2 separate regions of the Homo sapiens genome follow, and region 2 is linked to region 1. The links come from fine-mapping of genetic effects on gene expression. Tissue or cell type: skeletal muscle. Region 1 holds a variant in brackets; the other region holds the start of a gene. All regions are shown on one strand. Distances are between the middles of the regions.

The links. PIP is the estimated chance that this variant, and not a neighbour inherited with it, causes the effect.
Region 2: SEC14L5 starts here. The variant in region 1 is fine-mapped to the expression of SEC14L5 in skeletal muscle (GTEx, PIP 0.97).

Annotation. Positions count from the first base shown.
Region 1 is chr16:5,015,625-5,020,769 of GRCh38, reverse strand. It overlaps SEC14L5 (SEC14 like lipid binding 5), which reads right to left. Exons shown (of 16, transcript NM_014692.2): 16 at 1,613-5,145. Among named protein-coding and RNA genes, the nearest start is that of NAGPA-AS1, 16 kb to the left of the region's middle. The variant G/A (reference allele first, on the strand shown) is at 2,619.
Region 2 is chr16:4,955,753-4,960,897 of GRCh38, reverse strand. It overlaps SEC14L5 (SEC14 like lipid binding 5), which reads right to left and starts at 2,568. Exons shown (of 16, transcript NM_014692.2): 1 at 2,453-2,568; 2 at 1,512-1,625. The coding sequence starts at 1,574. RefSeq lists an enhancer at 2,041-2,576 and silencers at 2,380-2,675, 2,474-2,683.

The sequences.
Region 1 (5,145 bases):
GGGCTGTTCTTTCTCGATACCCGCCGCACCCACGAGTCAGCTGGCTGTTCCTTTGAAACCCGCCACCCACAGTTCCAGAGAAATCCACGGAAGAGTCACCGCCCATGAACACACGCAAGTGCAAGCCGCCTCCTCTCCCCTGACGAGCTGTGCTGGGCAGGGCTGGGGAGCAGAAGCTGGGTGGACAGATGGCCCTCGTGCCATCACACAAAACACCACACCTGCTCTGCTCTCACAAATGACAACCCCAGCCACCAGCTCCAAAACGACGAAGGCTTTTCAGAGTCCCAGGATCTGTGTGGCAGCCAGCTCCACTCTCCGTGCCCCAAGAGAGCTCACGGGAAGGACAGGTGGCACCCTGGACAGGGTTCATCACAACCTTCTGACGTCAGGACTGTGGCTGTTTTGGGATGCAGCTCTCCAGGACACCAGGTCTGGCACTTTGGTAAAACCCCAGGGGGAGGGCAGGGCAGCCCAGGAGAGATGGGCACCAGGGATTTTCATATCTGTTTAATGCAGATATAACTGTGTATCTGGTTAGCTATTGTATGCATACATAATAAGTTGAGTAGCATGCCCCAAAATTCATGTCCATCCGGAACCTTAAAATGTGACCTCGCTTGGAAGTAAGATCTTTGCAGGTGGAATTAGTTAAGGATCTCAAGACGTTATACTGGACTTAGGATGGGTCCTAAATCCAATGACTGGCATCCCTACAAGAAGAGGAGACACAGAGAGAGAGGAAGGCCATATGATGATGGAGGCAGAGACTGGAGTGATGCAACCACAAGCCACGAGGTGCCACTAGACACTGGAAGAGGCAAGGAAGGGTCCTCCCCTACAGCCTTCAGAAGGAGCAGGGCCCTACCTCCATGGTGATTCCGGACTTCCAGCCTCCAGAACATTCCTGTTGTTGTTGTTGCTGTTGTTGTTGTTTTGAGACGGAGTCTCACTCTGTCACCCAGGCTGGAGTGCAGTGACATAATCTTGGCTCACTGCAAGCTCCGCCTCCCGGGTTCACGGCATTCTCCTGCCTCAGCCTCCCGAGTAGCTAGGACTACAGGCGCCCGCCACCATGCCCGGCTAATTTTTTGTATTTTTTAGTAGAGACGGGGTTTCACCATGTTAGCCAGATGGTCTCAATCTCCTGACCTTGTGATCCACCCGCCTCGGCCTCCCAAAGTGCTGGGATTACAGGCGTGAGCCACTGCGCCTGGCCTATTTCTGCTTTATATATAAAAATTGTGATCCTCCCTCACACGGCCCAATAACCAATCTTGAGAACCTTAACTAATTACACCTGCAAAAACCTTATTTCCAAATGAGGTCACATTCTAAGGTTCTAGGTGGACATGAATTTGGGGACATGCTATCCAATCCATTACATATGTATACAATATATATGATACACAATTATACCTGCATTAAACAGATATGCAGCCCCTTGGGGGTGATATCACTCCGGTTGCAAATGCTCTAAAGCAAGGGTGTCCAATCTTTTGGCTTCCCTGGACCACATTGGAACAAGAAGAATTGTCTTGGGCCACACATAAAATACACTAATGATAGCTGATGAGCTGAAAAAACAAAGAAAACACACACACAAAAAACCTCAGTATTTTAAGAAAGTTTACGAACTCGTGTTGGAGCACATTCAAAGCAGTCCGGGGCCGCGTGCAGCCTGCAGGCCACAGGCTGAACAAGCTAGCTCTAAAGTCTTTTAAACAACAGCTGGAAAGTTCTTGAACGAGCCCACGGGAAACCTCCAGGGTTTTAGGAAGCTGACGATGCAAGTTTATCCAAATGGAAAACATTTAATGCTGCTGGTTGGAGCAAGTGATCAGGCAAACAAAAAAACCCATCGTGTTTCACTGGCTCAAAGAGACTTTGTTGAAAACAATTATACTATTCTCATTGGACAATAAATTTTACAGCAGGGAGGGGGAATTCCAGAGAGTGCAGGGTAGAAAAAAAGAGTCTCAAACTCTCCATACTTCAACCTCTGGGAAAAAACATTTTCTAACTGCCAAGGGAAATACCACTCAGAATACACTCCCTCAGATGGGTGGACTTACCCAGAAAACACAAGCAGCTTCTTTCTTCTTTTTTTGAGACAGGGTCTTGCTTTGTCACCCAGGATGAAGTACAGGGGTGAGATCATGGCTCACTCCAGCCTTGACCTCCAAGCAATCCTTCTGCCTCAGCCTCCCGAGCAGCTGAGACTATAGGCACGCACCACCACGCCTGGCTCATTTTTTAATTTTTTGTAGAGACAGGGTCTCACTATGTTGCCCAGGCTGGTCTTGAACTCCTGCACTCAAGCGATCAGCCGGCCTCAGCCTCCCAAAGTGTTGGGATTATAGGCATGAGCCACCACGCCCCGCCCACACAAGCAGTTTCTAAAAGAGAAAGACTGCACACCCAACTCAGAGGGCAATAATTCTTGACACCTACTTTTCTCTGGGTGCAATAACGAAAAACAGGGATAGGCGACCTCAGGAAGAAAACGAGTCTTTGGATGCGAAGCATTAAGTAATCAGAATGACCACTGACATTAATGGAGCGCTTTCTGTGTTCTGGGAGCTGTGCTGAAAGCTTTACAGCTACTCCCTCATTTC[G/A]TCCCACTACAACCTATTGAGGTAGGCACTGCTATCCTCACTTTACAGATGAGGAAACTGAGGCACAGAGAGGTTAAGTCACCTGGTCAAGGTTACACAGCTAGTGAAAGGAAGGCTGGGGTTTGAGTCCTGGCCTAAATTCAAGGCCCAGGTGCCCAAACACCAACAGTAATGCTGCTTGTGGGTTGCTTCTGTCCTGGTCACAATGGATTAATGAACTAATGATGCAAGAAGCCCAAGCCAAGGCACTTCCAGCCTTTGTGGCTCAGGGGAAATTCAAAAGCCAAAAGCTTGGCAATCCCTTCCTTGGATTATTTTTAATTCCAGTCCTCCCGAAGGCAAGAAGAATGACCTTGATAATGCTTCCACGTGGGTCCCCGAGACCTCCACATGGGAGGAGAGCCGGCCGTAGCAGATGCCACCATGGATACCTGCTGGTTCTGTGGTCCAGCTTCTCTTGTCCATTGGGGGAATGGCCCTCCCCAATCCTGCTGCGGCTTCTGCAGGGAATGTCAATCACGGGACCCTAGTTCCTTGCCAGTGTGGCCCACAGGAATAAGCATGTGACTCGAGCTGGGCCAATCAGAGCCTTCCATGAGATTTGAGATGGAAAAGCATCTCTTAGAGTGTGAATCCTGAAATTATAGGCTTGGGGCTGCTGGCAGCCATCTTTCCCGCCAGGTGGAAGAAAGAATGAGGTCAGCATGCAAAGAGATGCAGAGTCAAGAGGCCTGGGTGCAGTTGAGAGGCCTGAGGACATTAAGCTCCTGGATCCAGCCATATCTGAAGCAGCACCCACCTTCAGCCATCCCTAGTACAGGACCCAGGGAATTTGCTTTGTTGCTTAAGCCAGTTTGGGCTGGTTTTCCCTAGGGAGAGAGCACTCTCAAGAGCAGAACTGAAAGGGCCTGAGGTTCCTCACCCCCACTGTTAAGGGTGGACAGCTGATAGCAGACTCCCCTCCCCCCACCCGCCTCTGGAACAGGCAGTTCCAGCTTCCTTCCGTAAAAGGCTTCTGTGTCCTTCTCTGGGGCTAGACAATAAATGTATAAAGACTGCCAGGGCAGCTTATCCCAGCATACTTGTAGGATAACACCTAGTTTTTAAGAGAAAAGCTAGAAATTCACTTAAAGATAGTTGAAAATATTGCAAGTTGCTCTCAGCAATAAATGCCTGGTGATATGGGAGCAATTAGTTTTGAGAACGTCTCCTTCCAATCAGTCGGTCTCTTATGCACACATGTGCACACACACCTTGACGCAGAGTGCAAAGCAATCTATTTTGTTCAGATACCTGAGAAGCGGACAGAGAGCCAACAGGAAGGTGGGCAAGGCTCTCTCCCAGCAGGAAGAAGGATGTATCTGAAAAGATGACACTTTCTCTCTTCCTTGGGTTTGGGGTTGAGGCTGGCGTAGATATAAGTTTCCTGGCCCTGCATTGCTGAGCCTGCATAAAGATGATTCTTGTGGCCACAAAACCACCCCTTGGCTCAGTTACTGCAGCAGAGATGAGCCCCAACTCTAAGCAAGGCCAGGAGACAAGGGTACCAGCCACTGCTGACAGAGCCATGTCAGTGAGACTCCTGCCACGCAGGTCATGAGGATGTGTAATGTGGGCTGGGCGCAAGTCAATGGGGTAGGGACTGGCGTGGCCACATCCAGGGGTGCAGAGGTGTTGTCTTCATGCAACAATAGTGACCCCATTCTGCTGGTGCTCCCAAATGCCTAAGGGAAGCCAGAAATCCTGATTTCGATGCGAAATGCCTCAATTTTTAAACCATTCTAAAGGCAAAAAAGCAACACTAAAAGCAGGCCAGATCAGGCTTCAAGTTGGTGACCCCTGACTGGCTGCCTTTTGGGGAGTCCAGGAAAGGAAAGGAGAAATGTCCTCAGGCCCCAAGGAGACCCAAGACGCTCCTGTGTAGTAACTAGGGGAACTCATGTCAATATTGAACCTAGTTCCAGAGTCATATCTGCCCCAGGGCAAACACAGCAGCCTCCACTCGCGGGGGGAATCGAGACTCCATGTTGAGACCCTGGATCTAGCCTTACCTGAAGCAAGCCCTCCTGGACTGGCCAGTTCTATGCACCCATGAATGATCATGCTTTTGTGTTGAAGCACCTGGGCATGGGTCTCTGTGGCTTACAACCAAAAACAGTCATAATTAAACAGTTCCCTAGGAGAGAAAGGCATCTCCAGTGGGGTATACAGACAGCCTCAGTCACCCCATCACTGCCTGGAACTTAGCAGAAACCCAGGGCTCTCCCACCCTCTCCAATCAGGGATGGTCAGGCTTAGGCCATGCTGGCCAAGTGCAGGGAACATGGATTTTCACTTCAGGATGTGCTGTTCCCCACAAAGAGCAGCGCCTGTAACTCACTTAACTGCTCACCAAGCACATCTTGATACTGCATAACAGAACGTTATGCAATCAGATGCCAAGGTAAACACCCTTCATTTCTGCCTCCCCAGCATCCTTCCTCCTTCTTCTTAGGGGGGACCCCAGTACTCCTCGAGGCACCCACTA
Region 2 (5,145 bases), 60 kb after region 1:
CACCATCCCCTGGTGTTCCACTCCCATTACGCAGAAGCAAAGTCACTCAGGCACTTGCAAAAACAGTAACGATCATAGCTGGATCTCAGTGAGCATTTGATCTGCGTCAGCCCCGTACCAGGAGCTTTATACACATTGACTCATTTAATCCACAGCATGACACCAGGATTTGGAAGCCAGGAGATTCCCATTGGTGATGGGGAGTGGAGGCTCATGGAGGTGAAGTGACTTGCCCCACAGTCACTCAGCTCGTCAATTGGGGAGCTAGAATATGACCCTAAGCCAGTTCCTGCCTCTTTGCTGTCCTAGAACCATCTGCCTGTAACAGCACAAGGTATGTGGATGATTTTGGTGATGCTTTTAAATCCTCTGTGTGACAATAAACATATACGCATGTAGATTCATAGAATAAGACAGGACTGGACACACAGGCACACACAGCCACCAAGAGATATGAAAGTCCCTGGATAGAAGGCTGGGGTTAAGCAGTCAGTGCTGGGGTGGGACAGATGGGGGTGGATGCTAATGTTTCTTACACTTTCAATACATTAATTTACAAGACTTCGGTGTAATAACAGCGACAGCATATTTTGTGAGCTCCTACTGTGTGCCCGGCACACAGCAAGGAGCACCAAGAACTATCTCATTTACTCCTCCCCGCAACCTTGTAGCATTGTCCCCATGTTACTGAGCAGGGAAGTGAAGTGCTCAGAGGCAGAGGGATGCAGCCAAGAAGGAATTCCACATCCACCTATGTCCAGCTTCTGCCCCCAGGGTGAAAAGACCAGTGATCCTGGGGGCCAAGGATCTGGCAGCCAATTCTAGGCCTCCAACTGACTTGCTGCACAACACAGAGTACATCACAAAGCAAACCTACCCACTCATTCTCTCTCTCGTCCCAGTGTCAGCTTCCTTAAAGGGGAGGGAAGGGGGTCTGTGAGCAGAAGGAGGGCTCTGTGGTCAAATGTGAGGTTCTAGAGTCTCCTTTGTGGGGATCTCAGCCCCGACTCCACCTCTGCGTAGATACAGAACTTAGTGTCATCCCTTCACCTGTCAAAGCCTCAGTTTCATGGAGGTTACATGGGAAAATAACAGCTATCGGGAATTGGAAGAAACATCATCTGTTAAGACAGTGCTGTAAACATTCAATAAACAGCTGTTGTCATTATCACCACCATTCCATTTATCACTGTGATATGCCATTATATGAAATGACAGCAGTGGCTTGGCCCCTGATACCTTTGTTTTCTATCAGGAGAGTCTAAAGTAAGGGAGCAGGTCAGCTTCAACAAGGAGAAGGAAGAAAGACTTTGTGTTTTGGTCACTGGGCCGAGGATAGGATGGTTGGACAGAGAGGTCACTGGATAGAAGTTAAACCCACCAGGTCAGCTGAGTAACTCACTAATTCCTTCTGATCTGGGAGTCTAAGGAGCTCCGTCTTCCTACCGCCATAGCTGATCTCAAGCCCCTCCAACTGTCACATGGGGGCCCAAGAATCAGGAGTCACTCACCGCCATGACCAGCTCAAACGGGTACTTGTAGACTCGGACAGGAGACTGGTATCTTTGCACCATGTTCACGCTGGAGCACCAATGGAGGTCACCAGGCAGGGGTGTGCACAGAGCCTGGGGCGAGGAGTGACTGGTGAGGTTGCAGCTCCCACCTCGGGAAGCAGGGACACCACCCACCAAGTGTAAGGGGCAGCCCCTGGCCCCACCCACACAGCTCCCCAGCCTTCAAATTGAGAAGGCTGATATTCCCCCCAAATTACTCCAGGCCAAGCCCCAACAGCTTCCCTGTCATTAGCCATGGCCCCAGACCACGCTCAGCCTTCCAAGAGCAGTCAGCACCCCCAAACTTTCCTCTACCCCCACCCCTTCACACTGAGGGCCCCCAGAAGCCTTACGGCCACCCACACAGACACACACACATTTGCAATTCTTACACTCCCACGGTTCTATTCACGCATGCACCCCGCAGCTTGCCACAGACTTGCTGGCCTACAGCCCACCCCCGAGTCTCCTTGCACCTGCCCTCCCATTTTCCTCCCAGACACCCTGACATACACACACAGCCTTCACCACATTTCACAGGCACTGTCTCTATCACACACATGTACACACGCAGGTTTCCCTCCCACACGGGACTGCTTTTGCACACGCCTCCAACTTTGCACACACACCCTGAAACACGCACCTGCCCAGCTCCACGCACGCAATTCCCCTGGTGTGCACAGACGTGCACACACGCACACACACCCGTGCGCACATGCACACACACGTACACACACGTAGAGGCAATCGCACACGCATGCACACACAGGTCCCCGCAGCTTTGCTCACCCTCGCCCTCGGGAGCCTTTGGGAATGCAGCCTAGGGGAAGTGCCCTGGAAGCCCGCCTGGCTCGGGAGCTGAGCGCTTACCCGCGCCCGCCTGGCCTGGAGCGCAGTACCTGAGGCGGGGCCCGATCGCGGATCTCTAGCCTGGTGTGTCCCGCCTTGAACACCCTGCGGCCAGGACAGCTGTGGAAGGCCGGAGGGGCGGGAGCGAAACCTGCCGGGCCGAGAGAGCTCCAGGACCCGGGACAGCGGAGATCCTGGCCTGGCCCCGCCCCTGACCTGGTCCCGCCCACGTCCCCGGCCATGGCCCCGCCCAGGTTGGCCCTGCCCCCTAACTGGTCCCGCCCCACTCTGGCCCCGCCCCAGGCGAACTCCCCCTGGTTCTAGCCCCGCCCCTTATTTTTAGATGTCGCTTGTTTGACCACGCCCTCAGCCCAGTCCTTTCTCTAGATTGGTCACACCTCAGGAAGTCCCCTCCCCCTTCACTGGCCCCGCCCTCCAAGGCCCTCAGCCTCGGGGAATGGTAGGCCACAGGACGACCCCGCCCTAATCTAGCTCTGCCTCCAAGCAGACCCTGAGTCCGGGCCGACCCGCCCCGGACCCTGCGTCTGGCCGACAGTACTGTTTACATTTGTAGATAAGCAGAATTTACGCTTTTCTTGCTCAGATTAACCTCGCCCTCGTCCCGCTGCACTTGGGTCTGACTGGCTCCTCCACCTGTCCCCGCCCCACGGCCCGCGCATGCACCTTCGCCCACTCTGCACACCTTCACAGAGCGCCTGCTGGGGGTCAGCCCTGTCCAGGCGCTGGAGAGCCGCCGGTGAGCCACACGCACGAATCCCTGCCCTCGTGGAGTTTATACTACGGTGGGGAGACAGACACTCAATAAATAAGGCAAATATATGATGTGTGAGGTAGTGAAAAACTCTAACGAGAGAAAAATAAGCAGGAAAGGGGCTCAAGGAGCCAGCGGAGAGAAAGGACAATTTAAAACAGGTAAGAGGCCGGGCGCCATGTCTCACGCCTGTAATCCAAACACTTTAGGAGGCGGAAGCGGGAGGACCGCTTGAACCCAGGAGTTGGAGACCACCCTGGGTAACATAGCAAGAACCTATCTCTACAAAAAAATTTTTTTTTAGTTTAGGCAGGGCGCGGTGGCTCACGCCTGTAATCCCAGCACACTGAGAGGCCAAGGCAGGCAGATCAGCTGAGGTCAGGAGTTCGAGAACAGCATGGCCAATATGAGGAAACCCCGTCTCTACTAAAATACAAAATTAGCCGGGCATGGTGGCGTATACCTGTAATCTCAGCTACTCGGGAGGCTGAGGCAGGAGAATCGCTTGAATCAAGGAGGCGGAGGTTGCAGTGAGCCGAGACTGCGCCACTGCACTCCAGCCTGGGCAAGAAGAACAAAGCTCCGTCGCAAAAAAAAAAAAAAAAAATTAGCCAGGCGTGTTGGCACGTGCCTGTGGTCCCAGCTACTCAAGAGGCTGAGGCAGGAGGATCCCTTGAGCCCAGAAGTTCAAAGCTGCAGTGAGCTGTTACCTGGCCACTGCACTCCAGCCTGGGCAACAAAGCAAGACTCGGTCTCAAAATAAATAAGTAAATAAATAAATAAAACAGGGAGTAAGGGGGCCTCCCTTGGGAGAGTGACATTTGTCCATCACTCTCATTTTAACTCACACTTAACCCCTTTCAGCCCTCCCAGGACTCCCAGGGGACCAACCTTGCTCCCAGAAGTCCTGCCTTGCCACTCCTCATCTGTTTAGCCTACAAGACCCAAGAAATTGGCTCTGGACAGTGCTGTCATCCATGTATTCACTCATTCAACATTTACTGAGCACCTACTACGTGCCACCGTGGGGTGAATTCACCCCTTCAAGCAGGGGAAGTCAGAGGTGGCCAGGGAGATGGACAACCCCTGATATATTTCAAGTATGTCACTGCACCCTGTGAAAATCACCTCTCTTCCCTTCCTAGCCTGCATCACATTCTAATATTGCATTTATTCGTTTTATATATCTGTGGGTTCCTGGAGGTCTCTCTCAGGAGACTGTGAGCTCCCTGAGGGCAGGGGCAGTGGCTGCCTTATTCAGCTGCCCGCATGTTGGGAAGGATCTTACTGGGGACCTGGCAGGCAGGCAGCAGGTGCCCAGCAGACTCTTGGCTTAGGTAATCAAGGGCGGAAATGGGACACAAAGTTCCCATCCCTGTCGCAAGGTGGCAGCAAATGATAGCCCATGGCTCCTGGAGTAACACAAGGGTGAGTAGGTGGGGGACATGGGATCCAGGGATGACTGTCCTAACCCGGGCTCATCCAGGAAATGCCCAGCTCTGCCCAGGCATCGCCACAGAGCAAAGTGAACGTTAACACCGTTAGCTGCTGTTACCACCACGAAAGGCGTTAAGTCCGCCTCTCCTGCTGCCCAACATTGAGGGAGGACAATGACTGCGTGGGAGACAGAGGTGTGACAGCCCTGCGGGTACAGAGAGCTCAAAGTGGAAACTGGGGCCTGGAGGGGAGTGAGAACCCCACTCCCTCCTCCTCCAGCCCCAGGGAAGGGAATTAATAACGCCACCAACACTCACTCCAGCTTTTTTTGGGTTTTGGGGTTTTTTTTTTACGTGGAGTCTTGCTCTGTTGCCCAGGCTGGAGTGCAGTGGCGCAGTCTCGGCTCACTACAACCTCCGCCTCCCAGGTTCAAGCAATTCTCCTGCCTCAGCCTCCCGAGTAGCTGGGATTACAGGCGCTTGCCACCACACCTGGCTAATTTTTGTATTTTCAGTAGAGACAGGTTTCATCATG